Homo sapiens: one gene and its partners. The protein of the gene in region 1 interacts with the protein of each later gene in a pairwise test. Each region holds a gene or a part of one and is shown in the gene's direction. Other genes may lie near its edges.

The links.
Region 2: the proteins of SLC38A7 (region 1) and CREB3L3 interact in binary tests that used the Homo sapiens proteins (3 or more experiments, as listed by UniProt).
Region 3: the proteins of SLC38A7 (region 1) and SERP2 interact in binary tests that used the Homo sapiens proteins (3 or more experiments, as listed by UniProt).
Region 4: the proteins of SLC38A7 (region 1) and LYVE1 interact in binary tests that used the Homo sapiens proteins (3 or more experiments, as listed by UniProt).

What each region holds. Positions count from the first base shown.
Region 1 is NC_000016.10:58,667,771-58,676,590, reverse strand, and holds part of SLC38A7 (sodium-coupled neutral amino acid transporter 7), read left to right. Parts: intron 1-244; coding exon 245-302; intron 303-469; coding exon of another isoform or gene 470-515; exon of another isoform or gene 516-536; coding exon 537-651; intron 652-867; coding exon of another isoform or gene 868-977; exon of another isoform or gene 978-1,057; intron 1,058-1,248; coding exon of another isoform or gene 1,249-1,277; exon of another isoform or gene 1,278-1,341; intron 1,342-4,347; coding exon 4,348-4,495; intron 4,496-5,346; coding exon 5,347-5,546; exon of another isoform or gene 5,547-5,721; intron 5,722-6,423; coding exon 6,424-6,478; intron 6,479-8,820. UniProt on the Homo sapiens protein: Symporter that selectively cotransports sodium ions and amino acids, such as L-glutamine and L-asparagine from the lysosome into the cytoplasm and may participates in mTORC1 activation. The transport activity requires an acidic lysosomal lumen.
Region 2 is NC_000019.10:4,169,938-4,174,681, forward strand, and holds the end of CREB3L3 (cyclic AMP-responsive element-binding protein 3-like protein 3), read left to right. Parts: intron 1-202; coding exon 203-271; intron 272-1,153; coding exon 1,154-1,238; intron 1,239-1,445; coding exon 1,446-1,542; intron 1,543-1,718; coding exon 1,719-2,032; 3' UTR 2,033-3,117; downstream 3,118-4,744. Other genes in the region: SIRT6 (NAD-dependent protein deacylase sirtuin-6), read right to left, coding at 4,680-4,744. UniProt on the Homo sapiens protein: Transcription factor that may act during endoplasmic reticulum stress by activating unfolded protein response target genes. Activated in response to cAMP stimulation. In vitro, binds to the cAMP response element (CRE) and box-B element.
Region 3 is NC_000013.11:44,390,663-44,399,482, forward strand, and holds the end of SERP2 (stress-associated endoplasmic reticulum protein 2), read left to right. Parts: intron 1-763; exon of another isoform or gene 764-3,525; intron 3,526-6,609; coding exon 6,610-6,650; 3' UTR 6,651-7,052; downstream 7,053-8,820. UniProt on the Homo sapiens protein: Interacts with target proteins during their translocation into the lumen of the endoplasmic reticulum. Protects unfolded target proteins against degradation during ER stress. May facilitate glycosylation of target proteins after termination of ER stress.
Region 4 is NC_000011.10:10,564,900-10,573,540, reverse strand, and holds the start of LYVE1 (lymphatic vessel endothelial hyaluronic acid receptor 1 precursor), read left to right. Parts: upstream 1-4,875; 5' UTR 4,876-5,008; coding exon 5,009-5,093; intron 5,094-8,641. UniProt on the Homo sapiens protein: Ligand-specific transporter trafficking between intracellular organelles (TGN) and the plasma membrane. Plays a role in autocrine regulation of cell growth mediated by growth regulators containing cell surface retention sequence binding (CRS).

The sequences.
Region 1 (8,820 bases):
AGTCCAGGAGCCAGGAATTCTGGATTTTGGCCCCAGGGGGGCTTTTCTGAACCTCCAGGCCCCATCCCAGAGGGCCCTGGGACATAAGGATGCCTCTTCTCCCTGTTCCCAGACTTCTGTGGGTTGAAGCTATGGAATCCCAGTTGCTGGAGACCATGGTGGGCTGACCGAAGAGTGAGGGCGTGGGGTGGGTTGTGGCTCTGAGGGGTTCCCAGGTGGCAGCACCATGTGTGTTTGTTCACAGGCCGGCTTCCTGGATGGCTGTGTTCAATGCCATGCCCACCATCTGCTTCGGATTTCAGGTGCCAGTGCCAGTTGCAAGGTCCCTGCTGTCCCCTTAGATCACCCCACCCTGGGATGGAACCCAGCAAGGAGGAGGAACCCAGGCAGAATGGAGGAAATCCTGGGGGGAAGGATGGAACAGGGGCCTCAGGACTTGCCCCTTGTTCCTGGGGTCTTTGTTCCCAAGGTACCTTCCTCTGGAAACTGGGGTTGAGGTCATTTCCCCACCATGACGGTGCCCTTCACCTGGACAGTGCCACGTCAGCAGTGTGCCCGTCTTCAACAGCATGCAGCAGCCTGAAGTGAAGACCTGGGGTGGAGTGGTGACAGCTGCCATGGTCATAGCCCTCGCTGTCTACATGGGGACAGGTGAGTGCTCCCCCCCCCCAAGACCTGGGACTAGAGTGCTCTCACTTCCACAGGAGTCCCTAGGTCCTGGGGCCTAGCTTTCCTGGGGACAGCCCTGCATTCCCAGCATGACTTGTATAGGCATTGGCTTGAACTTGGCCTGCCTGGAGCCTCCTCCTGCCAAGATGAGAGTGGTGTATTCATCCATTCATTCACCAGTTCTAACTTGGTGCCTAGGAAGTGCCAGGAACGGTTCTCAGCATGGGGGATGCCATGGAGAGAGACAGAACTGGTCTTGCCCTCATGGAGTTGACATTCTTGTTGGAGAGACAGTCATGCAGGAGTAACTGGGGAATCAGTAAGGAATTCCAGATGGTGGCAAGCATCCTGATGACAGTGAAATAGGGAAGGTGTGTTTTGTTTTATTCTATTTTATTTTGTTTTGAGAAAGGGTCTCAGAAACTGTCGCCCAGGCTGGAGTGCAGTGGCATGATGATAGCTCACTGCAACCTCAACCTGCTGAGGTCGAGTGATCCTCCTGCCTCAGCCTCCAGAGTAGCTGGGACTACAGCCATGTGCCATTGTGCCCAGCTAATTTTTTTTTTTTTTTTTTTCTAGCAGAGACAAGGTCTCACTATGTTGCCTAGCCTGGTCTTGAATTCCTGGGCTCAAGCAATTCTCCTGCCTCGGCCTCCCAAAGTGCTGGGGTTACAGGCATGAGCCACCAACCCAGCCTAAAATGGGGAAGGTATGAATGGGACTGGATGGGTGGCTTTGGGAGTGGTTCACAGAAGGTTCTTCTCAGAGAAGGCCCAAATGATGAGAAAGAGCCAGAAGAGGAGGAGCTGGGGAAGAAGGGTTCCAGGCAGAGGAACCACAAAACACCAAATCACTGAGGCAGGGCCAGGAAGAAAGTCTATGTGGCTGGAGTGGTGTGTGATGGGGGCAGGTGAAGGCAGTGAGGCCAGACAGGCACTGGCAGCCAGATCCTGTTGGGCCTCGAGGGCTGCTGGGAGTCATCGAGGAAGTGTTTTAAGCAGGGGGGTGGTTCGGGGAAAGGTGGCTCTGGCTGCCGTGTGGAGAGTGGTTGGGGTGAGGGAGCAAGTCTAGGAGACCCTGGAAGAAGGATCCCCTGAGTTCTTTCCACGGATAGACCGTAGGAGCTGCCTGGGCCAATACTGTTCTAGCCTCTGAATACACAGCCAGGAACAAGAGAGGCAAACAGCCAAATCCCTATTCTCCTGGGGCTCATGTCCTGGCTGGGGAGACAGAAAATAAGCCTGTAAAAATTAATTACTATTATTATTGTTATTATTTTTATTTGTATTATTGTTTACTTAAAGACCAGTGTGATAGTACAGTTAAAAAAAAATTAGAAAGCGATGAGGCCAGTCACAGTGGCTCACACCTATAATCTCAGCTATGGGAGGCCAAGGTGGGAGGTTCTCTGGAGCCCAGGAGTTCAAGACAGGCTGGGCAACATGGTGAAACTCCATCTCTACAAAAAATTTAAAAATTAGCCAGGTTATGGTAACATGCACCTGTGGACCCAGCTACTTGGGAGGCTGAGGTGGGAGGATCGCTTGAGCCTATGAGATCAAGGCTGTAGAGACCCATGATCATGCCATTACACTCCAAACTGGGCAACAGAGTGAGACCCTGTCTCTAAAAAAGAGAGAAATGAGTGTTAGGGGACAGGCCCAGTGGATCATGCCTGTAATCCCAACACTTTGAAAAGCTGAGATGGGAGAACCGCTTGAGGCCAGGAGTTCAAGACCAGCCTCGGCAACATAGTGAGACTCATCTCTACAAAAATTAAAGAATTAGCTGGGCGTCCGCCAGGCATGGTGGCTCACGCCTGTAATCCCAGGACTTTGAGAGGCCAAGGTGGGTGAATCACTTGAGGCCAGGAGTTCGAGACCAGCCTGGCCAACATGGCAAAACCCTGTCTCTATCAAAATTACAAAAATTAGCCGGGCGTGGTGGTGGTGCCTGTAATCCCAGCTACTCGGGAGGCTAAGGCATGAGAATCACTTGAACCTGGGAGGCCGAGGTTGCAGTGAGCCAAGATCGCGCCGCTGCACTCCAGCCTGGGGGAGAAAGTGAGACTCTGTCTTCAAAAAAAAAAAATTAGCCAGGCATGGTGGCATGTGCCTGTAGTCCCAGTGACTTGGGAGGCCAAGTCAGGAGGAACTTGAGTCTAAGAATTCAAGACTACAGTGGAACTATGATTGTACCACTTCACTCCAGCCTGAGTGACAGAGCAAGATCCTGTCTTTAAAAAAAAAAAAAAAAACGGCCAGGCACTGGGGCTCACGCCTGTGATCCCAGCACTTTGGGAGGCCCAGGCAGGCAGATCACATGAGGTCAGGAGTTCGAGACCAGCCCAACCAACATGGCGAAACCCCATCTTACTAAAAATAAAAAAATTAGGGCTGGGCGTGGTGGCTCACGCCTGTAATCCCAGCACTTCCCGAGGCAGGCGGATGACGAGGTCAGGAGTTCGAGACCAGCCTGGCCAACATAGTGAAACCTCATTTCTACTAAAAATACAAAAATTAGTCAGGCTTGGTGGCGGGCGCCTGTAATCCCAGCTACTCGGGAGTCTGTGGCAGGAGAATCACTTAAAACCAGAAGGCAGAGGTGGCAGTAAGCTGAAATCGCACCACTGCATTCCAGCCTGGGTGAAAGAGCAAAACTCCATCTCAAAAAAAAAAAAAAATTAGCCAGGTGTGGCGGCAGGTGACTGTAATCCCAGCTGCTTAGGAGGCTGAGGCATGAGAACCCAGGAGACCAAGATCATGCCATTGTACTCCAGCCTGGGCATGACAGAGCGCGACTCCATCTCAAAAAAAAAAAAAAAAAAAAAAAAAAAAATTAGCCGGGCATGGTGTAATCCCAGCTACTCAGGAGGCTGAGGCAGGAGAATCACTTGAACCTGGGAAGTGGAGGCTGCACTGAGCCGAGATCGTGCCACCGCGTGCCAGCCTGGGCAACAAGAGTGAAACTCCATCTCAAAAAAATAAAAAAGAAGAAGGCTGGGTGTAGTGGCTCACACTCTGGGAGGGTGAGGTAGGAGGATTACTTGAGCCCAGGAGTTCAAGACCAGACTGGGAAACGTAGCAAGACCCCATCTCTACAAGAAAATTAGCTGGGTGTGGTGGCATCTGCCTGTAGTCCTAGCTACCTGGGAGGCTCAGGTGGGAGAATCGCTTGAGCCGAGGAGGTCAAGGCTGCAGTGAGCCATGATCACACTACTGCGCTCTAGTCTGGGTAACAGGGCAAGACTCTGTCTCAAAAAAGAAAAGAAAAATAAGACAGCGTGATGTGAGAGAGTGCCTGGGGTGGGGGTCATTGTAGATGGACTGGCAGGAAGCATTCTCTGAGGAAGGACATCTAAACTGAGACCCAAATGATAAGGAGATGGCATCTGAAGGTCTGCCAGACAGAACAGTCAGTGCCAAGGCACTGAGGTGGGAATGTGCTGGGCAAGTTCAGGCTCAGAAAGCTGGGGGCTGGAGGGCTTCCAGCGATGGGGGATCTGAGAAGTCAGGGAGGGAGGCATCTGATCGGAGCCCCATCTCCCACTCTGAGCCTCCGTCTAAGTGTCCAGAGCTGCTGCTGCAGCCTCCAGGCTGATGTTGCTCCTAGGAGGAGTGGACAGTCCACCCCACTACCCTCCCAGGGTTGCCCTGACCCAGTTGTCCCTGCCCACAGGCATCTGTGGCTTCCTGACCTTTGGAGCTGCTGTGGATCCTGACGTGCTCCTGTCCTATCCCTCGGAGGACATGGCCGTGGCCGTTGCCCGAGCCTTCATCATCCTGAGCGTGCTCACCTCCTACCCTATCCTGCACTTCTGTGGGCGGTGAGCCCCCTTCCACTCCCCAGGGCCCCTCCTAGCCCCTGTGAGCGCTTCCAACATGGTCCTTTGGCCTTGTGTGGACCCCATCCTGTAGAAGGAGAAACTGAAGCCTGTAGAAAAGAGTCGGTGCCTAGGATGGGTCCCTACATATCCCAGGCCAGGTGTCAGAAGCGCCCTTTGTCCTGGGGTCACCAGAACATTCCGTGAGTCCTGTAAGAATCTCTATCCATGGCATGGCACGGTGGCTCACGTCTCTAAACCCAGCACTTTGGGAGGCTGAGGCAGAAGGATCGCTTGAGCCTGGGAGTTCAAGACCACCTGGGCAACCTAGTGAGACCCCATCTCTACACAAAATAAAATAAATAGCCAGGTGTGGTGGGATGCACCTGTGGTCCCAGCTACTCAGCCACTTGGGAGGCTGAGGCAGAAGGATGGCTGGAGCCCAGGAGTTCAAGGCTGCAGTGAGCCAAGATTGCACCACTGCACTCCAGCCTGGGTGAGAGAGCCAGACCCTGTCTCAAAAAAACAAAAAACAAAAGAATCTCTATCCAGATCCTTTCCTGAGCTTTCACATGGACACCCTCCCCTTTGGATGCCCCAGACAGTTCCTTTTAAGGAAAAAACAATATCAGTTTCCATGTGATGTAAAGCAAAGTGCTAAGCTCTCGACATTCACCGTCTCTAGTCCCTGTGGTAAACAGAGTGCTGGTGGCCCATTTTACAGAAGAGGAAACTGAGGGTCAGGAATGGGGCTTTCCCCGCAGTCTACCCAGTTAGGGGTCTGGCTCCTGTGAGCTAGAGGTGGGGAGCTGCTAGCAGCAGGGGCACCTCTAAGCCCTTCTCCATGTGGGCAGGGCGGTGGTGGAAGGCCTGTGGCTGCGCTACCAGGGGGTGCCAGTGGAGGAGGACGTGGGGCGGGAGCGGCGGCGGCGAGTGCTGCAGACGCTGGTCTGGTTCCTGCTCACCCTGCTGCTGGCGCTCTTCATCCCTGACATCGGCAAGGTGATCTCAGTCATTGGAGGCCTGGCCGCCTGCTTCATCTTCGTCTTCCCAGGTGCGGACCCCTGGCGCCCCATCTCACAGCCCCACAGCACAGACTCCCAGGGCCTGCCTAGCCTCAGCTCCCTACTTGCTCAAAACATGCAGGAGAGAGTAACCACCAGCACTAATTGATCACCTGTCTCGCCTCTGTACTAGCCCCTATCCAAGCATTATCTCCTGGAAAGAAGGTATAGTTGTGATCTCCAGTTTACTGATGGCACGTGGGGCTCAGAAAGGGTCACAGACTTGCCTAGAGCTTAACAAACTCAACTAGTAACCTTTTCCATCCCACGCTGTCTGGGTCCAGAGTCTATTCTTTTAACCATTCATTCAGGTGTCTGCTGCTCCTTGACTATGAGGGATCTATCTGGCTGGTTCAGCCCATTACAGCCCAGAGGGCAGTGGGGTCTGGGGTGGCACCCTGACACAGACATCAGGGAACCTGGGTTCCAGACACAGATCTACCGCCAGATCCCTGGAGAACTGTCCTGTCTGCCCAGCCATGAGTTCCACCCTTTTCCAGCTTGTCTCTATCCAGGAAGCCACCCTGAAAGCCCCAGCTGCTTTGCTTGGAGCAGGGGAGCCAGATCTGCTGGGAAGTGTACTAGGAAGACCCCTGGGGTTGGGCCACCACTGAGTCACCATTGAGTGCTGTCCCTTTAGCTGAGTCTAGCATGCTGCCCAAGGGGTCTTGTCAGATGCCAGCCTGTCATGGGAGAGCAGATGCCAGATGACCCCAGCAGGATGTGGTGTGGGGGCAGAGATGGAATTTCTAGAAGAGTAAACATGGGCCTTTCTCCATCCAGCACTGCTTCTTGGGAAAGGAGGTGGCTAGGAGGGAGGGAGCCCTCTCCCCTCACAAATGCTCAGGGCCACTTCTTCTCTTTCAGGGCTGTGCCTCATTCAAGCCAAACTCTCTGAGATGGAAGAGGTCAAACCAGCCAGGTAAAGCAGGACCCAGCCCTTGATCCTCTCAGGGAGGTGCTGGATTGGAATGTGGCTTTGTGGGGGCCTTAAAACAGATAGGAGTCAGAGGCTTGTGTACTTAGAAATCATGGGTTTTTGTTTTGTTTTTTTTTTTTTGAGCCGGAGTCTCGCTGTGTCGCCCAGCCTGGAGTGCAGTGGCACGATCTCAGCTCACTGCAAGCTCCGCCTCCTGGGTTCACACCATTCTCGTGCCTCAGCCTCCCGAGTAGCTAGGACTACAGATGCCTGCCACCACACCCAGCTAATTTTTGTATTTTTAGTAGAGACGAGGTTTCACCATGTTGGCCAGGCCGGTCTCGAACTCCTGACCTTAGGTGATCCTCCTTCCTCGGCCTCCCAAAGTGCTGGCATTACAGGCGTGAGCCACCACACCCAGCCAGGTTGTTGTTGTTTTTTTTTTAATACTTTTAAAAATTCGGTAGTGTGCTAGTTGTTAACAATTTAAACATTAATAAAGGGCTTAATACAAAAAGATGGAAGTCCCTCTTCCCCCACAACCCACTCGCCCCCACATCCTTTCTGAGATAGCTCCATGTTACCAGTATGGTCTGTGTCCTCAACCACTTCTGTACATGTGTGCGTGTCTGTGTACACATAGCTATGGAGATGTATACATAGATGCAGGGCTCTTGTTTTGTTTTATGAAAAGTGGTTTCAGCCAGGTGCATTGGCTCATGCCTGTAATCCCAGCACTTTGGGAGGCCAACATGGGCAGATCACCCGAGGTCAGGAGTTCGAGACCAGCCTGACCAACATGGTGAAACCCCATCTCTACTAAAAATACAAAATTAGCTGGGCATGGTGGCACCTGCCTGTAATCCCAGCTACTTGGGAGACTGAGGCAGGAGAATTGCTTGAACCCAGGAGGCGGAGGTTGCAGTGAGCCGAGATCACACCATTACACTCCAGCCTGGGCAACAAGAGGGAAACTCTGTCTCAAAAAAAAAAAAAAAAAAAAAAAAAAAAAGCCATACAAACATGTCTAAAAAAGAAAAAAAATTGGCCAGGCACAGTGACTCACGCCTGTAATCCCAGCACTTTGGGAGGCCAAGACAGGCAGATCACCTGAGGTCAGGAGTTCGAGACCAGCCTGGCCAACATGGCAAAACCCCGTCTTTACTAAAAATACAAAAATTACCTGGTTGTGGTGGCGCATGCCTGTAGTCCTAGCTCGGGAGGCTGAGGTAGGAGAATTGCTTGAACCCCGGAGGCGGAGGTTGCAGTAAGTGGAGATCGCACCACTGCACTCCAGCCTGGGTGATAGCAAAACTCTGTCTCAAAAAAAGAAAAAGAAGAAGAAGAAAAAAAATCACCCTTTATTTCTTTTTTTTTTGTCTTTTTTTTTTTTTTTTTTTTTGAGATGGAGTTTCACTCGTTGCCCAGGCTGGAGTGCAATGGCGCGATCTCTGCTCACTACAACAACCTCCACCTCCCGGGTTCAAGCGATTCTCCTGCCTCAGCCTCCTGAGTAGCTTGGATTACAGGCGCCCACCACCACACCCAGCTAATTTTTTGGGTTTGTTGTTGTTGTTTTGAGATGGAATCTCGCTCTGTCACCCAGGCTGGAGTGCAGTGGCATGATCTCGGCTCACTGCAACCTCCAGGGTATCTGGGATTACAGGTGCGCAGCACCATGCCTGGCTAATTTTTGTATTTTTGGTAGAGACGGGGTTTCACCATGTTGGCTAGGCTGATCTCGAACTCCTGACCTCAGGTGATCCGCCCACCTTGGCCTCCCAAAGTTCTGGGATTACAGGCGTGAGCCACCATACCCAGCCATTTTTTGTATTTTTTTAGTAGAGACGGGGTTTCACCACGCTGGCCAGGCTGGTCTCAAACTCCTGACCTCAGGTGATCCACCTGCCTTGGCCTCCCAAAGTGCTGGGATTATAGACATGAGCCACCACACCCAGCCTAATTTTTCTATTTTTAGTAGAGATGGGGTTTCGCCATCTTGCCCAGGCTGGTCTTGAACTCCTGACCTCAGGTGATCCATCTGCCTCGGCCTCCCAAAGTGCTGGAATTACAGACATGAGCCACTGCACCCAGCCTAATTTTTCTGTTTTTAGTAGAGATGGGGTTTTGCCATCTTGCCCAGGCTGGTCTCGAACTCCTGACCTCAGGTTGCCCGCCTTGGCCTCCCAAAGTGCTGGGATTACAGGTGTGAGCCACCACACCCGGCCGGAAATCACCCTTTATTTCAATTCCGTTTTATCCCTGTTGCTGTTAATTGGTACATACATTTGCAGATGTCTGCTTTTTGTTTCCTTTTTTTAATGAAATAGACCACATTCCATGTG
Region 2 (4,744 bases), on another chromosome or scaffold:
GCAGAAATGGGACCTAGGAACCAGGCAGATGTGGGTTCAAATCCCAGCCCTGTCTGACCTGCCGAGTAACCTTGGATGAATGACTTCCCCTCTCTGGCCTTGGGTTCTCTTGGCTTGTAACGTGAGGCCTCTGGGGGAGATGTCAGTGGGGCCAGCTGGTGACTGGCATATGCTGAATGTCGATGCGTCTTCCTCCTTTCAGGATGTCAGCTTGCACTGCTCAGAATCAGGAGTTACAGAGGAAAGTCTTGCATCTCGAGAAGCAAAACCTGTGAGTCTGGGTCCAGCTGGGGCAGAGGACAGGGGAAGCAGCCCCAGAGTCCCTTTGCAGGAAGAGCAGAGAGCCCATGTGATGGCAGAATGACATAGGGAATAAGAGTTTTACCTATGGGCCGCGTGCAGTGGCTCACGCCTGTAATCTCAGCACTTTGGGAGGCCGAGGCGGGTGGATCACCTGAGGTCAGGAGTTCAAAACCAGCCTGGCCAACATGGTGAAACCCCGTCTCTACTAAAAATACAAAAAAATTAGCCAGGCGTGGTGGCGGGCACCTGCAGTCCCAGCTACTCGAGAGGCTGAGGCAGGAGAATTGCTTGAACTCGGGAGGCGGAGGTTGCCGTGAGCCGAGATCGCACCACTGCACTCCAGCCTGGGTGACAGAGCAAGGCTCTGTCTCAAAAATAAATAAATAAGGCCTGGTGTGGTGGCTCACGCCTGTAATCCCAGCACTTTGGGAGGCTGAGGTGGGCGGATCACAAGGTCGGGAGATCAAGACCATCCTGGCTAACACGGTGAAACCCCGTCTCTACTAAAAATACAAAAAAAATTAGCTGGGTGTGGTGGTGGGCGCCTGTAGTCCCAGCTACTCGGGAGGCTGAGGCAGGAGAATGGTGTGAACCTGGGAGGCGGAGCTTGCAGTGAGCTGCCATCCCACCACTCACTCCAGCCTGGGCGATGGAGCAAGACTCTGTCTCAAAATAAATAAATAAATAAATAAACAAATAAATAAATAAATAAAATAAATAATAAAGAGCCAGAGGCCCTTGAAGAATGGATGGAATTTGGACTTTAGCGGGGCTGGGGGACCCCGGAAATGGACGAGAAGCAGAACCGAGGCCCTTTAGGGCTCAGCGGAGGCCTGCCTGTCTCTCTAAGGTCCCTCTTGGAGCAACTGAAGAAACTCCAGGCCATTGTGGTGCAGTCCACCAGCAAGTCAGCCCAGACAGGCACCTGTGTCGCAGTGAGTCCTGGTGCCCCCAGGCAAGCCGGGGACCTAGGCTTCTGTAGAGGGGCCCATAGGGAGGTGACAATGAGTCCAAGCTCTCCTTGTGCCCCAGCTCAAGTATGATCCAGTCTGGTCTTTGGGGCCTCAGTTTCCCTGCCTGTGGGATGGAGATGCTTGCAGGGGAGGGGAGGGAGGGGGTGACTCTGCCGCTGTCTCCACCAGGTCCTGTTGCTGTCCTTTGCCCTCATCATCCTCCCCTCCATCAGCCCTTTTGGCCCCAACAAAACCGAGAGCCCTGGGGACTTTGCGCCTGTACGAGGTAGGGGATCCCCACCTTTGAAACCCTTGTCTGGTCTCCCCAAGTCCCCGTCCTGGGCCTCTGGGGGAGGGGGAGAAGACCCCTGTGCCCTTGTTCCCTGAGGCTGGGGGCCAGGGAAGGGAGCATAGGACCCCACCTCCACCTTGTCCCCTGTGATGCCCCCCTTCCCCAATCAGTGTTCTCCAGAACTTTGCACAACGATGCTGCCTCCCGCGTGGCTGCTGATGCTGTGCCAGGCTCCGAGGCCCCAGGACCCCGACCCGAGGCTGACACAACCCGAGAAGAGTCTCCAGGAAGCCCCGGGGCAGACTGGGGCTTCCAGGACACCGCGAACCTGACCAATTCGACGGAGGAGCTGGACAACGCCACCCTGGTCCTGAGGAATGCAACAGAGGGGCTGGGCCAGGTCGCCCTGCTGGACTGGGTGGCGCCTGGGCCGAGCACTGGCTCAGGACGTGCAGGGCTGGAGGCGGCGGGAGACGAGCTGTGAGCCCCGCCAGGACTATGCTCCCAGGCCCCTCTGCCCAGGGGTGCCTTGGGGATGCTGCACTGGGCAGCTACCCACCTGGGGATGGGACGTGAGGCCAAGACCCCAGCAGAGATGCCAGAATGGGGGAGGCACAGCTCATAGCCACACACCCAGGGCCTGACTGAGGCCCACGCAGGAACCGACACTCAGACACAAGGCAAAGAGGGCCACAGGACCCGGGAAATACACACAGAGCCAGGAGCAGAAGCAAAGAGCAGACACACATACAGCCTGAAACAGACCTGGACAGACAGACACAGCCTGAAACAGACCCGGACAGACAGACACAGCCTGAAACAGACCCAGACAAACAGACAGACAGACACAGCCTGAAACAGACCCAGACAGACAGACAGACAGCCTGAAACAGACCCAGACACAGCCTGAAACAGATCCGGACAGACAGACAGAAACAGCCTGAAACAGACCCAGACAGACAGACAGACACAGCCTGAAACAGACCCGGACAGACAGACAGACACAGCCTGAAACAGACCCGGACAGACAGACAGACACAGCCTGAAACAGACCCGGACAGACAGACAGACACAGCCTGAAACAGACCTAGACAGACAGACACAGATTGAAACAGACCCAGACAAACAGACAGACACAGCCTGAAACAGACCCAGACACAGCCTGAAACAGACCCGGACAGACAGACAGACACAGCCTGAAACAGACCCAGACAGACAGACAGACACAGCCTGAAACAGACCCAGACAGACAGACCGACGCAGCCTGAAAGAGACCCAGACAGAGAGACAGGCAGACACAGCCTAAAACAGACCTGGACAGACAGGCAGACGTAGTCTGAAACAGACCTGAACAGACAGACAGACGCACACACACAACAGATGCGCAGCAACTCCCCGCCCAGGGACCCCTCCCGGCCTCCCTCGCACACTGGGAGGAGGAAGCCGCCGAGACTGCAGGGAGCCTGGCCCCGGAGCCCCGGGTGCGCCCTGGTCTTTGGAGCAGCCACGGCCCACAATCACCCCCCTTTTCTAAGACTGCCTGATCCGAAATAAAGTATTTTGACAGAACCTTGTTTTGGTGTGGAGGCGGAGTCTGGGGCTCCTCGACTCCCCAGAAGGAGGGGCTGGGCCAGCCTGGGATGGGTGAGTGAGGTGTGGGCTCCACACCCCCGCCAGATGCCCGCGCTGGAGCAGCGGAGGGAGAGGCGCCGGGCACGACTTCAGCACCTTGGAGAGCGGCGGCGGGCGGAGTGCGGGGAGGCAGGCGTGGCGCTTCCAAGGTGTCCCCTCCGGAGTTGCGGGGAAGGCAGCTGCCTTCCCGGGGATCTGGGCGGCCCACCCTGCTCATTTTGCGGGCGAGGACACCGAGGCGTCGGAAGTGGAGGGACTGCCTAAGGTCACAGCTGGGGAGAGTGGAACCCGGCTGCTCCTGCGCTCGTCTGTGGGGTCGCCCCCACTGCGGGCTGTGCGCGCCTGCCCGGGCGCCATCGCAAAATCGCGCCCAAAGCACAGGTGGGGACTCATAGCCTGGGGGTAAATGTTAAACAACAACAAAAAGCATGTGCATAAGTGTATAACTACAAACTGAGTGCTCAGAAAATGCCAGCTGCCTTATTGGCTTCATCATCAGAAAACTGGCCTGATCCCTCCAGAGGCGGGGTGGGGGGAGAGGTGAGCCCTTGTTCCTCGGCCCCCAGGCTTGAGGGGCAGGGATTGCAACGGAGCCCAAGCAGCTGGTCCAGGGAGGAGGGGACCACGAACTCCTGACCCAGGGGGGCGAGGACCTGCCACAAATAGGGAATTTAAACACTCACTGGGCACAGTGGCTCACGCCCGTTAAGTCCAGCACTTTGGGAGGCCAAGGTGGCCTGACTGCTTGAGCCCAGGAGTTTGAGACCAGCCTGAGTCACATAGTGAGACCCCCATCTCTACAAAAAATGCAAACAATTAGCTGGGTGTGGTGGCACACACCTATAATCCCAGCTACTCTGGAGGCTGAGGCAGGAGAATTGCTTGAACCTAGGAGGCAGAGGCTGCAGTGAGCTGAGATCACGCCACTGCATTCCAGCCTTGGTGACAGAGTGAGACTCTGGCTCAATAAAATAAAGTAAACACACTGAGATGCAAGAAAGAAATTGTTTTTATTGCATTGAGGACTTTTCCAGAAGCCTGGTGGACCCACGTCTCCCTCCAGCCCCAAAGGCAGTGCAAGCCTCTACTGATCCCCCACTTCAAGGTGGGTCTCCCCTCCTGCAGGGCCCATGGAGGAGGGGTAGGGTGGGCTGTAGGGGGCCCAGAAGGGAGGCCCTGGGGACAGAGGGAGTTCACTCCTGTTTAAGCTGGAGACCAGGGAGGGCCCAGCCTCACCTCTGGACAACACAGCAAGTCAGAGGCTGGGGTGTGGCAGGGGCTCACCTGTCACCTCTGGGGTGTGGCTTCTTCCCGGAACCGCACCAGAGGCCCCTGGAGCCCAGGGAGGGACCACGGAGGGCAGGTGTAACCCCTGGCCTGGAGCACAGCTCTCAGAGCCCTGAGGCTCCCGGGGACAGAAACAAGTAACAAAGTGAGACCACGAGAGAAAAAGAATCCACAGTTTCTACAAAAAGCCCCACCCTCCCCAAGCACCCTGGTCAGCTGGGGACCGCCTTGGCCTTCACCCTTTTGGGGGGTCTGTGGGGGGCAGGGCTGGTGGGCC
Region 3 (8,820 bases), on another chromosome or scaffold:
TGCGGATAGAAAGCTTTACATTCTTTGCTAATAACATCTGGGTTTTAATAGCGCCTCCTTGCCCTGCCTGTCTCCGGCATCTCTCTTTTTTCCCTCTTCTCCATCTCTAGAGAAGCCACCAGAAAATGGCATCTTGCTTTTGACTTTCTTTGTGCTGATTCTTTTAGAGAACTTAGTGATCCACTTTGCAATGTCTCGTCTCCTAACATTTCAGCTTGTTTCTCAGAGGGCCTGTACTTTGCTTTCTACCAGCTCTTTCATCATTTTCATTTTCTTTAATGAAAAATAAGCAAAACTGTATGATTTCTAGGTTGTCTTCTTCTCCTAAAGGATATTCTTCTTCCGGCCTCTCTTAATCTCTCTTCTCAGCAACTCCCTTGATCTCTTTTATCATCAATTTATTGTCAATAAAAGTGGCTTTAGGAAGCCTCCTGTTACCTGGCAGGGTTCCAGCTTTCTGACACTTTCCTATGGGACCCACTTGTTATGTCATCCCTGTGTCCTTCTGGCACTCCCTCTTAGCTGGGGAGGGTCAGTCCCCAGGGTGAGAGTCGGTTGGGATGGCCCATTATCAGGCCTTTAGGAGTTTATAGTCTTGTACTTCCCCTTCGAAGACTGAGCTTTAGAGACATTTGGATCTAAAGGCAGCCATTTGATGCTGACTCTTTGGGTTTGCAAAGTAGTCATTTGAGGTTTTTAAAATGTAATTTCCTCTGTGCTCTTTGCAATCGTTCACTTTTCAGTAATTCAATAATATTTACAGAGGACCTACTTTGTGCCATACCTGGTCGCTGTTATCCTGGAGCTTATAGTCTAATGGCAAAGAAAGATGAGTTAATCAAGTAATCACACCAAAACACTTTCAATTCAGCCATGAAACTGTACAATTTCAGCCATGAAACAATGTAAAGGAGAGGCACATGGGGCTATGAAATCATACAATGCAAAGGACTGGTGTACTCTCAGGTAAGTGGTTCTCAAAGTGTGGTCCCTGGACCGGCATCTCAACATCTCCTGTGAACTTGTTAGAAACACAGATTCTCCATCCCTTAACTCCAGGGTTTGGGGGGAAGGTGTCCAGCATTTGTGTTTTAACCTGTCCCCAAGAGACTGTGATGCATGCTCAAGTCTGAGAACCTCTGCTCCAGGTGATCAAAGAAGGCTTCTCTGAAGACATTAAATTTTGGTTGATGAAGGAAACTAGGGAATAGGGTGGGGTAGAAGTATTTCAGACAGAAAGAATGGCATGTGTAAAAGCCCTGTGGTCTCACTCCTGTAAATCCCAGCACTTTGGGAGGCCGAGGCGGGTGGATCGTGAGATCAAGAGATTGACACCATCCTGGCCAACATAGTGAAACCCCGTCTCTATTAAAAATACAAAAAAAATTAGCTGGGCATGGTGGTGCGCTCCTGTAGTCCCAGCTACTCAGGAGGCTAAGGCTGGAGAATCGCTTGAACCCGGAAGACAGAGGTTGCAGTAAGCCGAGATCGTGCCACTGCTCTCTAGGCTGGTGACAGAGTGAGACTCTGTCTCAAAAAAAAAAAAAAAAAGCCCTGTGGTGAGAGCAGGAGAGCAGGGAGCTTTTGAAAACATGAGGGAGTACCCCAAGCAAGGAGAAGAGTGATACAAGGTGAGTCTGACAGGTCTGGACAGGGACCATGATGTGCAGGTCATGAAGGCCTCATCAGGGATTGGGCAACGGGAAGCTTTTGATGTGCAGTAAACACGGGAGTGACAATATATTATTTGCTTTTATTGAAAGGATAATTCTAGCTACAGTATGGAGAAAGGATGGAAGAAGAGCAAGAGTCGAGCACTGGGAGGGCCTCACTGGGGTCTTGGGGAGGATGATGGTAACTTGGACTAGGGTGGCTTCTGAGGAATGGAAAGAAGGGTGCATAATCACAAGATTCCCAGGTAAAATCCACAGGTCTTGGTTATCAATTGGAGGTGTCAGGAAGGACTGTGGTGTTTTGAGTCTACATCCAAGATGGAAGATAATGATGCCAGTTTTAGCAGTGGGACGAGATCATGAGAAGGTCCTGTTGAGTCCGAGGTACCTCTGAGCCACCCAGCTGTAGATATCAACTAGATAGTGGAAGGTGTGCTGGAGCTCAGAGAAGTCAGGGCTGGAGATACACATTTGTGCATCATCAACAGCTAGGTGGCAATTCAAACTGTGGGCTGGGAGGCATTGCCTAAGAAGAAAGAACGTAAGGAGAAGAAAGCCAGTGACGTTCATTGCAGAATGTCAGCGCTTATGTTTAATGGTCAAGTGGATTGTTTCCTCTAAAACAAGTTTAGAGGAAAGATCCAAGAGAAGGAGGAAAATTAGAACCTAGAAGACCATGGTTTCACAGAGGCCAAGGGAAGAGAGTTTCAAGCAGGAAGTGCCCAGCGGGGGTGAGCAGGGGGTAAGGCAAAAGAAGGTGGAAGAATGCCTGTTACACTAAGCGACTCAAAAGTCATTTGTGACTTTAGCAAAAGATATTCAATGGAGGGAAGAGAGCAGAAGATAAAATGAGGTGGACTGACATGAGAATAGCAGGTAAGAGAGTGCAGAAAGTGAGCATAGACAGCTCTTTAGAAATGGTTGTGAAGAGGAAGAGAGGGCCCTGTGGATGGAGATGTGGAGTCAGGCAGATAGCTCTGGTGTATTTGATTTTTCAGTGGGAGTGCTCCTAGCATGTTAAAGCCTAAAGACTTTGTTGAAAGGGGTGCTGAAAAAAGAGAAATGGTATCATCTAAGGTTACCAAGGGCCAGGATCCTTGACACAGGTAGGAGGATGCAGAGGCTTCGTGGGTCTGGTAGCTCCTGCTCTCCCCTGGACTTTTCTGAACCTCTGGGACCTGCCCACGCCCTGATCGCCTGCCCTGGAACGCCTGCTGTCCCTCCCTTTCTTGGCATCTCTCCTCCCCGCTGTCTCGCCTGCCCACAGTTCCTCTCCTGCAGCCTGTTCTGCTGTTTTCTCAGCTTTGTTCACCCACTGTTAAGTTATTAACTTGTCAGGGTCTAGACTCCCCGCTTCCTTTCCCTCTTTTGAACTCACTGCTGGCTCCCTTCCCATTTGCCGCCTCAGAAAGTCAGCATTTGGAAGGCTGAGGTTACTCTGCAGGTCAGTATTGGCAGGTACACAGAATTACAGTTAATATAATTAGAATGTGTAAGTTTTCTTAAAGACAATGATACAACTGAAAAAGAAATAATAAACACAGTCATCTCTCTGTTATCTTGTGGAGGTAAATGGTGAACTTAAAAAAATAGACTTTATTCAAAGTAGTGTCTCCAAGAAGGTTCATCTGTGAACATGTTAAGGATCGCTGGACTCTTATATGTTAATTCATGGATTCAATTATGATCAGGAATGATCCTCAGTTTTTAAAGCAAACTCAAAGAACTAGGTAAGTTGTTTTAATATCAGTGTCGCTGTTCTGAGACGTGCAAACTTTATCTTAGATTCTTTCTATTATTTTTATTTATTTATTTTTTTTGAGACGGAGTCTTGCTCTGTCACCCAGGCTGGAGTGCAGTGGCGCAATCTCGGCTCACTGCAACCTCCACCTCCCAGGTTCAAGCGATTCTCCTGCCTCAGCCTCCCAAGTAGCTGGCACTACCACACCCAGCTAATTTTTGTATTTTTAGTGGAGACGGGATTTCACCATGTTGGCCAGGATGGTCTCAATCTCTTGACCTCATGATCTGCCCACCTTGGCCTCCCAAAGTGCTGAGATTACAGGCATGAGCCACCGCACCTGGACTGTCTTAGATTCTTTAAAGAGATTTGTAACAGTTCCTTCAAAAAGAATTGCATGGTTTCTTATTATTACCTCGAACTTTTGAAGTTATGAATTAACTTAATATGGGGGCTACATGGACTAAGACACAGATGGTTTCCTATTTGTTGACTTACATCCTGCTGATAAGTTTTTGTCTAAGGGCAAGAGTAAGCGAGAAGTAATATTTTTGAGCATCTACTTATGTCATCGTATTTATTCCTTGCCATCCTTTGAGGTACCTATTATCCACAGTTTTATAGGTAGAGAAAGCAGGGCTCAGAACTGTGTAGTAATTTCCCAAAGTTCACAGCTTTGTAGGCTGGCAGATAGTGCTAAGCACTGGTCTGCATGCTGGGACAGGGAGAAGCAGCAGTTGTTGTAGTCATAGTAACAGTGATGATAGCAGTAGCTACCAGGCAGTGAGTCCTCCATGTGTGAGGACCCTTCCTATATGTCATATGGTTTAATCCCTGTGACAGCCCTGCAAAGGCCATGATCCTCATTTTACAGAACAGGAAGCAGCCTCTAAGAGATTAATTATTTGTCCAGTCACACAGCTTTTCAGCAAAGAGCTGATATTCAACCCAATTCCATCTGATCCTAACTTTCTGCTCTAAAGTCAACTTGTTCGTCAGGATTAGCGATAGTTCCCTGATCACAAGAACAAAGTCTGAGGCATGGTAGAAGTAATCTTTTTTTTCCTAATGTTGAATATACAGCTGCCTCCTGACATTCCTATTGAGCCAGAATACAGAATGTTTATTTAATTTTTACTCCTTGTGAGCCTTGGTGGGGAGGAAAGAAACATCAGATATTTCTGCAAGCTTATAAATTGTTGTAGGGTACTTTCTCTTCCAACTGCTCCTGTTAAGACCCACCCAAGGCCGGGCACGGTGGCTCACGCCTATAATCCCAGGACTTTGGGAGGCTGAGGTGGGTGGATCACGAGGTCAGGAGATCGAGACCATTCTGGCTAACACGGTGAAATCCCGTCTCTACTAAAAATACAAAAAATTAGCCGGGCATGGTAGCGGGCACCTGTAGTCCCAGCTACTCGGGAGCCTGAGGCAGGAGAATGGCGTGAACCGGGGAGGCGGAGCTTGCAGTGAGCCGAGATCGCACCACTGCACTCCAACCTGGGCGACAGAGGAAGACTCCGTCTCAAAAAAAAAAAAAAAAAAAAAGACCCACCCAAGAACCCAAACTTAGCTAAGAAAATATCTGAGCACATCCAGAATTAAATATCACAAGTTGTTGGACCAACACCTTCACCATATCTACAGATGAGTCCCTGACACTCACATGGAGCTGATTGACTCTGATTTGACTCGTAATTCTAACAGTTTCTGTTTTCAGCTTAGTCTACGGCAACAAAATAATAGTACAGGACCCACTGCAGATTGGTGTAGTAATACAAGAGATGTGACCAGAGATGAGAAGAAAGAGACCCAAAAAATGATCAGAAGCAGAAATGGGAGCCCAGAAGTGCAGCTGACCAGAAGCATTTCAGTGTCAGATCACACGCAGCCTCCTCTGTAATGAGATCACAGCACGTCTCATCAGTTACTGGTTTTCATTATGGTGACACTGAACACTCATGAAAAGTTAGCATTGAAATATGTTGGTATCTCCAATTTAGAAAGGTAGTGATGATGGGTACAGTGTTTTTACGGGGAAAAAAAGCCAAAAAATGCATTCATGTTTGTCTACTCTTAAAACCCAGCTGTCCAAGAACGATTCCCCAAGGCCCTGTCCATCATTTCTCTTTCTATCCTTGAAGCGCAGTGTCTGACACATAGGATGTGCTCATTGATGCCAGATGATGAAACTTGAATGGCTGGTTTCCTAGGGTTCTGGATAACTCTGTTTTACCGTGGATCCTGGATGTATTCCAGGATGACTTTAAGAAGGCGAGAAGGGGTAAGACCCCTGAGAGCTCAGTGTTTATTCTGTTTTTACACATGGTTAGATGAGATGATACCCACCCTCCTTCAAAAAAAAAAAAAAAAAGCCATTCAATACATGGTAGTTACTCTTATCATTACCATCATCTTTGTCAACACTGACCACGGTTGCTCACTGGGGAAGATGTGAAAAAGAAGTTGGGATCTTCCGCTCCTGGGACACATTTGAAACCCAATAGCTGGAAGCAGGCTGAAGCTATGTAACCAGCTCTCATCCACATGGGCAAGGGTCCCAGGAGTTCTCTGTGGGCTTACAAGCTACCCACCCCCTTGACAACTCCAGTTATTAAAGGTTGAGCCCTGAATAAATAAGTGCCGCTCTCCATAAGAGACAGCCGCCTTTCAGAGAGTTCCAAGCAGCTGGAAGATACTCACGCATGGAGGGTTCTAGGCAGACAGAGGCCGGGCCCCGTGGGCTGCTCCGAGCACCTGGTCGGCCTTCCCAGCACAGGGCTCATTGTTTTACAGGTCACAGCCATTTTGAAAAGGCAGACTCACTGACCTGTTTAATGAGTGCAGTTTCTGCACGAAAGCCCATATCCCTCTCCCAGGCAGCCCCAGAACTTTGCTGGGGAAGGGGGCCAAATCTCTTCTCAGTGCCTGAGGGATTTCTGGCCTTAACTGCTGGTGGAATTAGCAGGAGTTATCTATAAATCCCTGAGGCATCCATCAGCCGACTGAGCGAGGCTGCCTTTTTAAAGAAGTTCACTGACCTCTTGTTAACTTAACTCCTTGTTAGGAAATATCTAATCAGCTGTGAGCTAACACGTCAGGGCCCAGGGGTCTGCAGAAGCCGGGCTCACTGTGGGCTGGGTTTCCAGCTGTGTGCAGTCTGGTGTCTGAGCTGTGGTGTTTTCCTCTTTTCAGCTATCTTTCAGATCATTCAGAGCATAAGGATGGGCATGTGAGAAAGCCAGGGATTTGACACCACCTCCCTCCCACTGGAGGCGGGAGGACAACGGAAGCGGTCAGCCAGTTTCTGCGGGAAACAAGCAGGCCACACGGAATAGAAAAAAACGCTCCCCCACTTGTTCCCTGATCACTTCATCGTGGATGTCAGACCAAATTGCCTTCTCACAGGACATCTTGGTGCATCCGCGTTCTCAAGCGGAAAGGACATTTTGCTTTTCTGTTGGCAGGATTAGTAGCCACGCGGGTCGTCCGCAGCAGTGCTGTTTTTTTGGTTTTTCCCTTGGTTTCACTAATGCGTGCATGTGGCCCTCTGAACGATCACTGGTTTACTTTCTATGGATACAATCTCTCCTCCATTGAGAATTGATTTTACAAATAAATGTCTTCGTTCAACCTTATACCATGTGTGGGTTACAGTGAGAAAACTAAAGTGAAGAAAACAGCAGAATAGCTCAAGGAAAGTTGGGAGGTGGGGAGATTTGGTTATGCAGTTGGAGGAGGCGCAGGGAATCTGTGGGAGGGGAACCAGAGCTAGATTTACTCAGCAGGTCCCTGGCCAGACCCTCAAGATCTTTGCCTGAATGAAGCCCTGGGCAGTTCTAATGACCTTGCATTTTCTACACATTTGATTCTTCTTTTTTTTCAATATTTTTATCTTGTTTGTTCTTCTCTTTTTCAGTTCAGAAAAGGCATGTACAATGTATGTGAAGGTCCGATTAGTCATTATCTCCTCTGTGGTCTGCCTCGGAGCTTAGCACAGAGCAGATGTCCCAGGCCTCTTGGTGAGAACCATCCAACCCCAGAGCCCAGCCTCAGCCACTCCAGAGGTCTGGGTAAATCAGGAGCCTTGCAGCCCTCTGGGGGATCAGCTGGCAGAATTGGGGGGTGAGGCTCTCTCCCTGGCCAGCCTTCCCCACAGCTTCTCAAAGCATGGTGTTGCCAAAGGAAGTTACAGGGACAGCCACAGGATCACTGGTAGGATTAGAGGTGGTCACCCTGCAATATGAAGCACGCTTTTGTTTTTATTAATTTCCATCTTTGCATTAGCAATTTTTTCATTCATTAACTTCACGAGAGCTTTAAAAAGGAAAGTTACAGACATGACCAGGGTCTCTCTGGACCACTTTACAGGTTTTGGTGTTAGTGGCACTGTTTGAATTAGGGGCTTCTTGTTCATTGGAGTCTTTAACTTCAGACCCTTTAGTGATGTTCTTTCAGGCTTTCTTTTCTCCCACCCTTAGAGCTCCCCTCCAAAAGCATCCCTTCCCCCTTCTTCCTCCTTTCTTTCCCACTAAGAAGAGAGGGTAGTCAGACTGCTCCAAAACCAGCAGCCCTGGGAACAATCTACCACCCCGTGTTCCCTTGCCACTCCCACTCCCCAGCCCCCAGCCCCTTGCAAAGTGGCAGAAGACATTTCCAGCCACTCAAGGGTGGCATACAATAGATGCTCTCCAAGCTGGTCCCCTCATCCTGTTGGCTCTGACTGTCCTCTTCCAGGTCACCAAGTCAGACCAGTGTGTGGTAAGAGATCAGCCCTAAGGGATCCTGCTTGGGGCCCGGGAGCCCACGCTGCCTGCCAAGAGGAGGAAAAAGAAAGGCTCTTGCCTTCAGGTGACTGGGTCTGTGTTCCCATGTGTCTCTTTCCAACTCCCACATTGCCTAGACTTGATTAGAGTGCAGACCTTCTCTTTCTCCCTTAATGCCCATACAAGCATACCTCCCAAACCACCAATAGAGGCCATTACTGGCCTGAGCTTTGTGGTTCATCCCTTATTGGACAGAATTTTTTTCCCCTAATTTGGCCTTTCCCATAACAGCAATAGTCAAGAGGGTGATTATCCCCATTTCGAGGAAAGAGAAACTGAATCCTGGCCAGAGTCCGTTCCAGATAGACCCTGCTTGTCCCCAGGTGACAGGTGCGATGGGCTGAGCATGGTAGGCTGTTGGCTGCCATCCATAAAACTGTCCAAGATTGATTTCTCTCCCCAGGCTCTGCAATCATCCATAAACTGGTTTTCTATTAGTTTCCAGGTAGCCTCCCTGAAGTACTTGTATATGGCAATCTACCCTCCCTGGTGACTTTTTCCATCTGTTCTCTGCAAGCAGACATGAGAGCTGTCTTAGGGAAGTTAGGGCCATTGTTGATCTATATTGTACTGCAGAGAT
Region 4 (8,641 bases), on another chromosome or scaffold:
TGAAAAAGTGCTCATGAGTCCATCTTTTCTGGAAAGCAAAGACCAGCCTGAAGCAGTGGGAGCTGCTGCCCAAGCGGTAGTGAACTGGAGAGAAACAGGCCCTGGATTTTCAGTGAGGATGTGGATCTGAAGAGTCCCCCAAATGCCTCTGAAGTCTGACATCTCTGCTTAGCCCTAGGAGTCTGGTTCCCTGCCTTCAGTTGCAGAGTGATGTGTTTGTGTCATTGTTGATGTCACCTCCTAAAAAGACCTTCACTTTCTGGCTGCCACAAAGCCATATGTGTTGCTCCCCATATACAGCCTGACAGAGTAAATGGAGAGGAAGTGCTGGATTTGTGTATCACTGGCTATCAGTTCCTCATGTTGTTAAGCCTCACACAGGTGTGCTAGCATTGAACTGTAGAGTGTCACATACCTGAGTTTGAAAATAAAAGCACATTTCCAAACCTCTGGCAGCAGCCAAATGCCTCCTCATTTTATGGAGTTGAATTACAGTCTTACCCCAACCCAGAATTAGATGCCTTTGGATATATTAGTGCATTCCAGAACCAAGTCAGAGGTCCCCAACCCTTGGTCGTTATACTATGGGCTACCTCACAGGGGCTGGATCAGTTCCTCCTCTTCCCTTCCCCATTCCTGATCCTGGTTTCCTGTATCTTCCTGGTCTATGATTTTTTTAATTAACACAGTTTGCTGTGATTGAGTCTGCTGAGTTTTTAACCAACCTGATTTCCACAGCTGAACTATTTTTGTCTTTCTTACAGCTAGCTGCAGGGGAATGTGGACTTTCCAAATCTAGTTCCCTAAAAATAAACTCTCCTGCCCAATACTTCACACCTTTTTTTACTCCCTTCTCTGCCTACCAAAGCCAGAGGATTCAGATGAGAACACTGAGACCCGAGAAAATGGCAGAACCACTAGACGGAAGCTGGGTCTTTGAATGAGCACTCCCAGTATTGAACTGTGACATGAATAAGAAATAAGATTTTAGTATATTAAGCCACAGAGATTCCAGGATGTTTATAGCAGTTAGCCTACCCTAATGCATACATTTGAACCAGAAATTGTGTACTTTAATAGCAAAATTCCAAAATATGAGGTTCTAGCTTACCAGTTACATGGCAAGAAACAAAACTGCTAGAAAGATGGTAAGATAGTAAAGTCTTACCTGTGATAACTTGGAAAGCATCTCATGGTTAGCCTATTTATAAGTGGTGGAAAGAATCAGCGTTGGGGTATGGAAACTTCTCTTGGCTGCCTTTGGCAAGGTATGGCAGGAGAAATAATTGGCTATGTGGGAGCAAAAATGAAAAAGAATATAGAGTATTCAGAAATGTGAAAGATTGAAGGGTGAGAAAACCTGACCACTTCTAAATCCCAGACAGACTAAAAAGAGCTTTGAGTGGGAGCCAATAAAATTTCTCAGTTGAACAGATCGACTCAGCCTTATGGCAAAGGCTAGATTAAGGATGTGGCCCTTTGTGAGTTCAAATGAACTTAGTGTATTCACCACTAAATTTGAGGGGTATGGTGCTGAGAAACAGGAAATACTTCTTGAGAATTATGACTGGGAAAGGATTTGGGGTATGATTATTGGCACATGGAAGCAGAAATCTAACTTTGTGAGGGAATTTACAAAGAAACACAAGCCAGGACTAAAAACCCCTTTCATTGTTCAGGTGAGGAAACAGCTTTGAGGAGGAAAGAAAATATATCAGAGAGATACCTGCACCCTCATGTTTATTGCAGCAGTATTCACAATCGCCAAGATATGGTATTAAAATGTGTCCAGCAACAGATGAGTGGATAAAGAAAACATGGTGTACATACACAACGGAATAGTATTCAGCCGTAAAAAATGAAATCCTGGCATTCACAGCAACATAGATGGAAATGGAGGTCATTATGTGAAGTAAAATAAGCCATGAACAGAAAGTTAACACCACATGTTCTAATTCATGGAAGCTAACAAAAGATCTCATGGAAGTAAAAAACAGAATAGAGGATACTAGTGGCTGGAAAGGGAAGAGAGGAGGAAAAGACAGATTTGTTAAAGGACATAAAATTAGGAGGAACAAGTTATAGTGTTTTATGGCACTATAGGATGACTATAGATAACAATAACATATTTTCAAATAGCTGGAAGAGAAGATATTGAACACCCCCAACACAAAGGATAAATGTTTCAGATGATGGATATGCTAATTAGCCTGATCTGATCACTACATCTTGTTTGTATGGAAACATCAAAATGTACATGTGTATAATTATGTATTGATTAAAAATAAAATTTTTTTAAAATTAAGAAAACTTTTGGGATCTTAGCTTATGCCGGCAGGAAGCAGACTGCAAAAGCTGTGCTATTCCCAAGGAAGGCATACTCCCTAATATCCACTTCAAATGTGGACAAGCAAGATTATATGCAAATGAATCTCCCAGAGGGATGCAAAGGGCCGCAGAAAACAGTGGATGTGGAAGTTTCTCTCAGAAAGCAGATCAGAATCAAATCAAGGTTAAGTGACTGTGGAAGGCAGAATTTCTAGAATAGCCCTCCAAAGATGTCCCACCCTAATCCCTGGAGCCTTTGAATAGGAGCTCCAGGGGTATGGAGCTTTGTTGTGTTACATTAGATGGTACAGTTGACCTTAAGATAGGGAGGTTATCCAGGTGGGCCCATGAGCCCTTAAAAGCAGACAGCTCGCCGGGCGCGGTGGCTCACGCCTGTAATCCCAGCATTTGGGAGGCTGAGGCGGGCGGATCATGAGGTCAGGAGATCGAGACCATCCTGGCTAACACAGTGAAACCCTGCCTCTACCAAAAATACAAAAAATTAGCTGGGTGTGGTGGCGGGCGCCTGTAGTCCCAGATACTCGGGAGGCTGAGGCAAGGAATGGCATGAACCCAGGAGGCAGAGCTTGCAGTGAGCTGAGATCACGCCACTGCACTCCAGCCTGGGCAACAGAGTGAGACTCTGTCTCAAAAAAAAAAAAAAAAAAAAAAAAAGTAGAGAGCTCTGCTTGAGCCCAGGAGGTAGATGCTGCAGTGAGTCACGATGGCGCCACTGCGCTCCAGCCAACAGAGCAAGACCGTGTCTCTTAAAAGAGCAGAGAACTTTCTCTGGCTAACTGTAGAAGTGAAAGAGAGACTAGAAGTATGAGAAGGACTCAGTGTGTCATTGCTGCTTTGAAAATGGAAGGGCTCTAGGAGAAGAGAATGGTCCCTGGCTGACACCCTGCAAGGAAACAGGGACCTCATTCCCACAACCTCAAAGAAATGAATTCTGCCAACAACCCAAATGTGCTTCGAAGTGGATTCTTCCCCAGAGCCTCTGGGTAAGAGCCCAGCCCAGCCAGCACCTTAATGTCAGTTTCGTGAGACCCAGGGCAGAGGACCCAACTGAGCCCACTCAGACCTCTGACATATAGAAGCTGTTAAATGATAAATGAGTACTGTTTAAGCCGCTAAGTCTATGGTAATTTGTTGGACAGCAATAGAAAGCTGGCACAGCGACCTTTCTAAGGCCTCTTCATTGGTATTCCAGAAATTCTATGGCTGGTGATCACTGTGACTCTCATTCTCCTCCTTGACACAAAGCCTTGCCTTCCCTGATTCATTCTTCCCCTTCCTGTCTTCCTTCGTTCTTTTTGCAATAAGTGAACAAATGCTAGAAAGCTAGCTCTCTTTCGGGCATGGTGTTAGGCTTTAAGAATAATCATGAAGAGGCCAGGACTCTGCCTGTCTGCCTCCCTGGTGCTGTGATGATAGAGTCATGCATGTTTCTGAGAAACTGGGGCTTGTGCTCACCCAGATCATGAGGTCGGTATTGGAGATGTGTAAGGGCTGTTACCCTGGTCTTTTAGAAGTTCCCTGCATTTGTTTAGAGCAGATTCTCTTTTTGTTATTGATATTTTTCACACAAATATCTAACTTTATGACCAGTACCACTTATATAAAAAAGAATTCGTTATCCATATACTTTTCCTATAAAAGACATTCATTTTGGAAAAATCTCATAAACCTTTGCCCAAGACATTGCTTACAAGCCAGAACTCCATAATTACCATGAAGCAAAAACCACTGAAAATCCGGCTGGAAAAACATAGAATACACTCTGCTGGTACACAGCACAGATAAACCTCATGTTCATCGAACAACAAAGGTGGAGTCTGACTTGAATTCTGGCCTACCAGAATATGAAAGGAGTTATTAAGAGAAAGTTATTTCATAAAAGACCCCTGTGGTGATTACTATTGTAAAGTTAAAAATCCTTGGGGAAAGTGTAAAATGTTTAATTTTGTAAATTGCCCTCCTACTTGTGTTATGTAAATGTGAATGTTTATATGTGCCTGGTTTCTTTGAAAAAGGAATCACCTGTAGTGGTGTAGAGATTTCAAATGTGTAAAAGGAGACTCAAAGGAAGGCAGAAGGTTCTAGACTCAGTATTTAAGTGGACATTTACTTTCATGAGCTTCAGCATCATACCCTGCAGATCACAAGGCCGAACAGCTGGGTGGAAAAATCACTGATTGCGGGAGGAAAAGAGGCACAACCTATGCTCAGTCTCCTTTAGGGACAGAGATGTTTCTAGGAGTACATAAACGATGGACTCCACAGGCAGTAACAGTGAATGGTGTGAGAACTGAGCTGCTGGGGGAGGAGGAACAGCAGGGAATATGGGAATTGGGAGAACCTTTAGCAGTTCACACTGTGCTATCTGCCTTCCTCATTTGTGTGTTTTCTGAGTCAGCATTAGCTAAATTTTCCAGAAGGCCATCCACAAAGTACAGCCTGGGCGTTCAAGGGACGTCATTCATTTCCCCCAGTGACCTTGACAAGTCAGAAGCTTGAAAGCAGGGAAATCCGGATGTCTCGGTTATGAAGTGGAGCAGTGAGTGTGAGCCTCAACATAGTTCCAGAACTCTCCATCCGGACTAGTTATTGAGCATCTGCCTCTCATATCACCAGTGGCCATCTGAGGTGTTTCCCTGGCTCTGAAGGGGTAGGCACGATGGCCAGGTGCTTCAGCCTGGTGTTGCTTCTCACTTCCATCTGGACCACGAGGCTCCTGGTCCAAGGCTCTTTGCGTGCAGAAGGTAGGTTTCTCACCAGATTTCCAAACTGAAGCAAGGCTTCAGTCCTAAGCCTCCTAAGCTGTTGACTATGGATTTCTGGGAATGAGGGTGACCCTCAGTGTCAACAGCAGGTCTAATTGGTGGTACTGCTCTGCCAAAAATGTACCACCATATTGTCAACTTCACCAAAATGATTGACATTTACGTTTGTATCATCTGGACTTTTACTTTTGGTTATGGAATATTTTTAATGAGGACATTTTGAAATAAAACACTGAAGAGAAACCATTTGATTTTTACTCTTTTTTGTATGGGTGGTATTTAAATTTTTTGTAGCAATGGGATCTCGCTTTGTTGCCCAGCCTGGTCTTGAACTCCTGGCTTCAAGTGATCGTCCTGCCTCAGCCTACCAAAGTACTGGGATTGCAGGCATGAGCCACTGCATCCAGAAGTAATAATTTTTTTTTAAGTATTTCATTGAAGACGCAAACCATGATTGTAAAAAATTTAAAGCAATCACTAAGCTTGGGAATAATGGGTAACTTTCACTAAAATTGGCCTGTTTTTATGTTTTTTGGGAGTGTTAGCATAATTATTTTAATTTTGATTTTATCATACCATGAATGAGGTGCAATGTTTTAAAAAAATATTCAGTAAATAGCAAATTAGCTGAAAAAAATCTGTAAAAATATAAGTTTGAAAATTAAGCCATCGGCTGTCTACTAAAGGAATGACTTAAAGTGATCGCTGGGCTTTTGAGATGCCTAAATGGAAACCTCATTTTGCACTGTAGGCAAAAAAATTGTAACCACAAATCACTCATTGCAGCTCTGGGCAAATGAAAATCTGAGCACTTTAATAGGAAAATGTGTGTTCCTATGCTGGAAGATGACCTGAGATATAAAATATGCTAGAAACAGACATTCAGAGTTGATTTATATGTTGTTGCATTACATTTTATAAGAAAGGTCAGAGTTATATGATTAGTTTTTTAAAATACTGTTACTTTCAAATAAGTTTGGTCCTCTTTGAAATCCTCTGGGGAGACTATTTTTCCCCACAATGCTGCCATTATTCAAACTATTGGACACTGTTTTTTGAAAATGACTCCATCACACTCTGGACTATCCTCAGCAAGGGAAAAAGATTTTCTAGGGAAATTACATTTTTGGAAACAACCAAAAGTCAGCATAACCATGACTGCAGAATAAAGTAGTTGATGAAGGTAAGTGAATAGGGGTGGGAACTATATTTGAGGGCCAAGTATATAGTGATCCAGAGCTAGGTGTGTATATACAATTTCATTTAATCCTCTCAAAAAGACAGTTTATAGGTGAAGTGACTTGCCCAATGTCATGCAGGCAGTACATAATAAATATTGGGTTTGAATTCAGCCCTATCTGATTCCTAAGCATATGCTATTATCTGATTCCACATCCTTATATCTAACTCCTAAGCATACACTATTTCTACTATGTTTGCTGTTTCCTGAGAAATCTTAAGGAAGGAGTTACTGGAGTACTCCCTTAAATTCCAGCTCCCTCTTTTGATCCCTAAATGAAATAGGAAAGCATAAAATGACTAATGTTGTTGACTTCCTACTGGGCCCCGCCTCTGCTAGGTACAAGTTATCTAATTTAATTCTGATAAAAATCATGTGAAGAAGATATATCCATCCCCATTTTCAGATGAGAATGCTGACTTGCCTGATGTCGCAACAGCCAGTTAACAATAGAAAAAATATTCAAAGCTAAGTCTATCCACCTAGAATAAGTCTATCACTCCTCTAAATAATAGTATTTAGAGTACAAATGACATATGATGAGAGGGTAGTAAGACCAATTGATAATGTGACAAATAAACCTCTGCAATCCATTCCCAAAGAAGTAGCTATAAGAGACCTGAGCAATAGCAAGCTCATGAGCTAAAAGAGCCAAATTTCAGAGCAAACGGTGTGTTCAGGGAGTTCAGCCTAGGGGTGTGTGTGTGTCTGTGTGTGTTCATTTCCTTATAGCACTGTGAAAGGTAAAACAGTGTCATTGTTAAGAACTGGGGGCCGGGTTGGGCACGGTGGTTCATGACTGTAATCTCAGCACTTTAGGAGGCCGAGGTGGGTGGATCACCTGAGGTCAGGAGTTTGAGACCAGCCTGGCCAACATGGTGAAACCCCATCTCTACAAAAAATACAAAAATTAGCTGGGCATGGTGTCTCGCGTCTGTAGTCCCAGCTAGTCAGGAGGCTGAAGCACAAGAGTTGCTTGGACCCGGGAGGCAGAGGTTGCAGTGAGCATGGATCACGCCACTGCACTGCAGCCTGGGTGACAGAACGAGACTCTGTCTCAAAAAAGAAAAAAAAAAGGGCCAGGCACAGTGGCTCACGCCTGTAATCCCAGCACTTTGGGAAGCCAAGGTGGGTGGATCACCTGAGGTCGGCAGTTCAAGACCAACCTGACCAACATGGAGAAACCCTGTCTCTACTAAAAGTACAAAATTAGCCAGGTTTGGTGGCACATGCCTGTAATCCCAGCTACTTGGGAGAATGAGGCAGGAGAATCGCTTGAACCCAGGAGGTGGAGGTTACAGTGAGCCGAGATCACGCTATTGCACTCCAGCCTGGGCAACAAGAGTGAAACTCCGTCTCAAAAAAAAAAAAAGAACTGGGGTTCTTGCTTGGCCATACTGGTGCACACCTGTAGTTCCAGCTACTCAGGGAGGCTGAGGTGGGAGGATTGCTTGAGCCCAGGAATTTACGACCAGCCTGGGCAACATAGCAAGATCCATCTCTTGGGAAAGAAGAAGGAAAAAAGAGGAACTGGGGTTTTAGAATCAGGCATAATTGAGTGTGTGCTCCTAATCTGCCACCACAGCAAGGTTCATATGGAGGACTTAGAAATGCTCCTTCCATGTTTTCAAAAAGAAACTTCCATTAGATATCAACCTAGGAAGTGGTCAAAGCATTTGACTGAGCATCCAATACACAGAGCTGCGTACAAGCAATTACTTGAGAGATTTAAATGCCCTTTTATGGATGTTTGTGGATGAAGCCCAGTAGGAATAATGTATTTGAATACAATACAACTTGGCAATTTTATACAGGTCTGTACATCCCAGAACCCAGAGAAAAGGGTTCAAAAGAATTCCCAAATCCATTAGATTTTGAGTAGAAATATTATTCATATCTTACCTATTCAACAGCCTCAGCTTCTGTGGGGTAATCAATCATTAGCAGACCAAAACCAAAATGCTTTAACGATAATGATAATGTTATGTGGATTTATTAAGCACCTACCATGTGGCAGGCACTATGCTAAACATTTGTATTAGAATTTACTCACTTAACTTTCACTACCCTATTCAGTAGACACTGTTACTCCCTTGAATTTATAAACAAGGAGGCTCAAAGAGCTGAAGATTAAAGAGATGAAGTATCTAGGCTAAGGTCACAGAGCTAGCAAATGACATATGCTAGATCTAAGCCCAAGTCTGACTCTAAAATTCTGCTTTCTTCATTTAGTTTTTCTGCCATTCAAAGTTTACTGCCAGCTCCTCCAGGAACTTCTGAGTAAGCC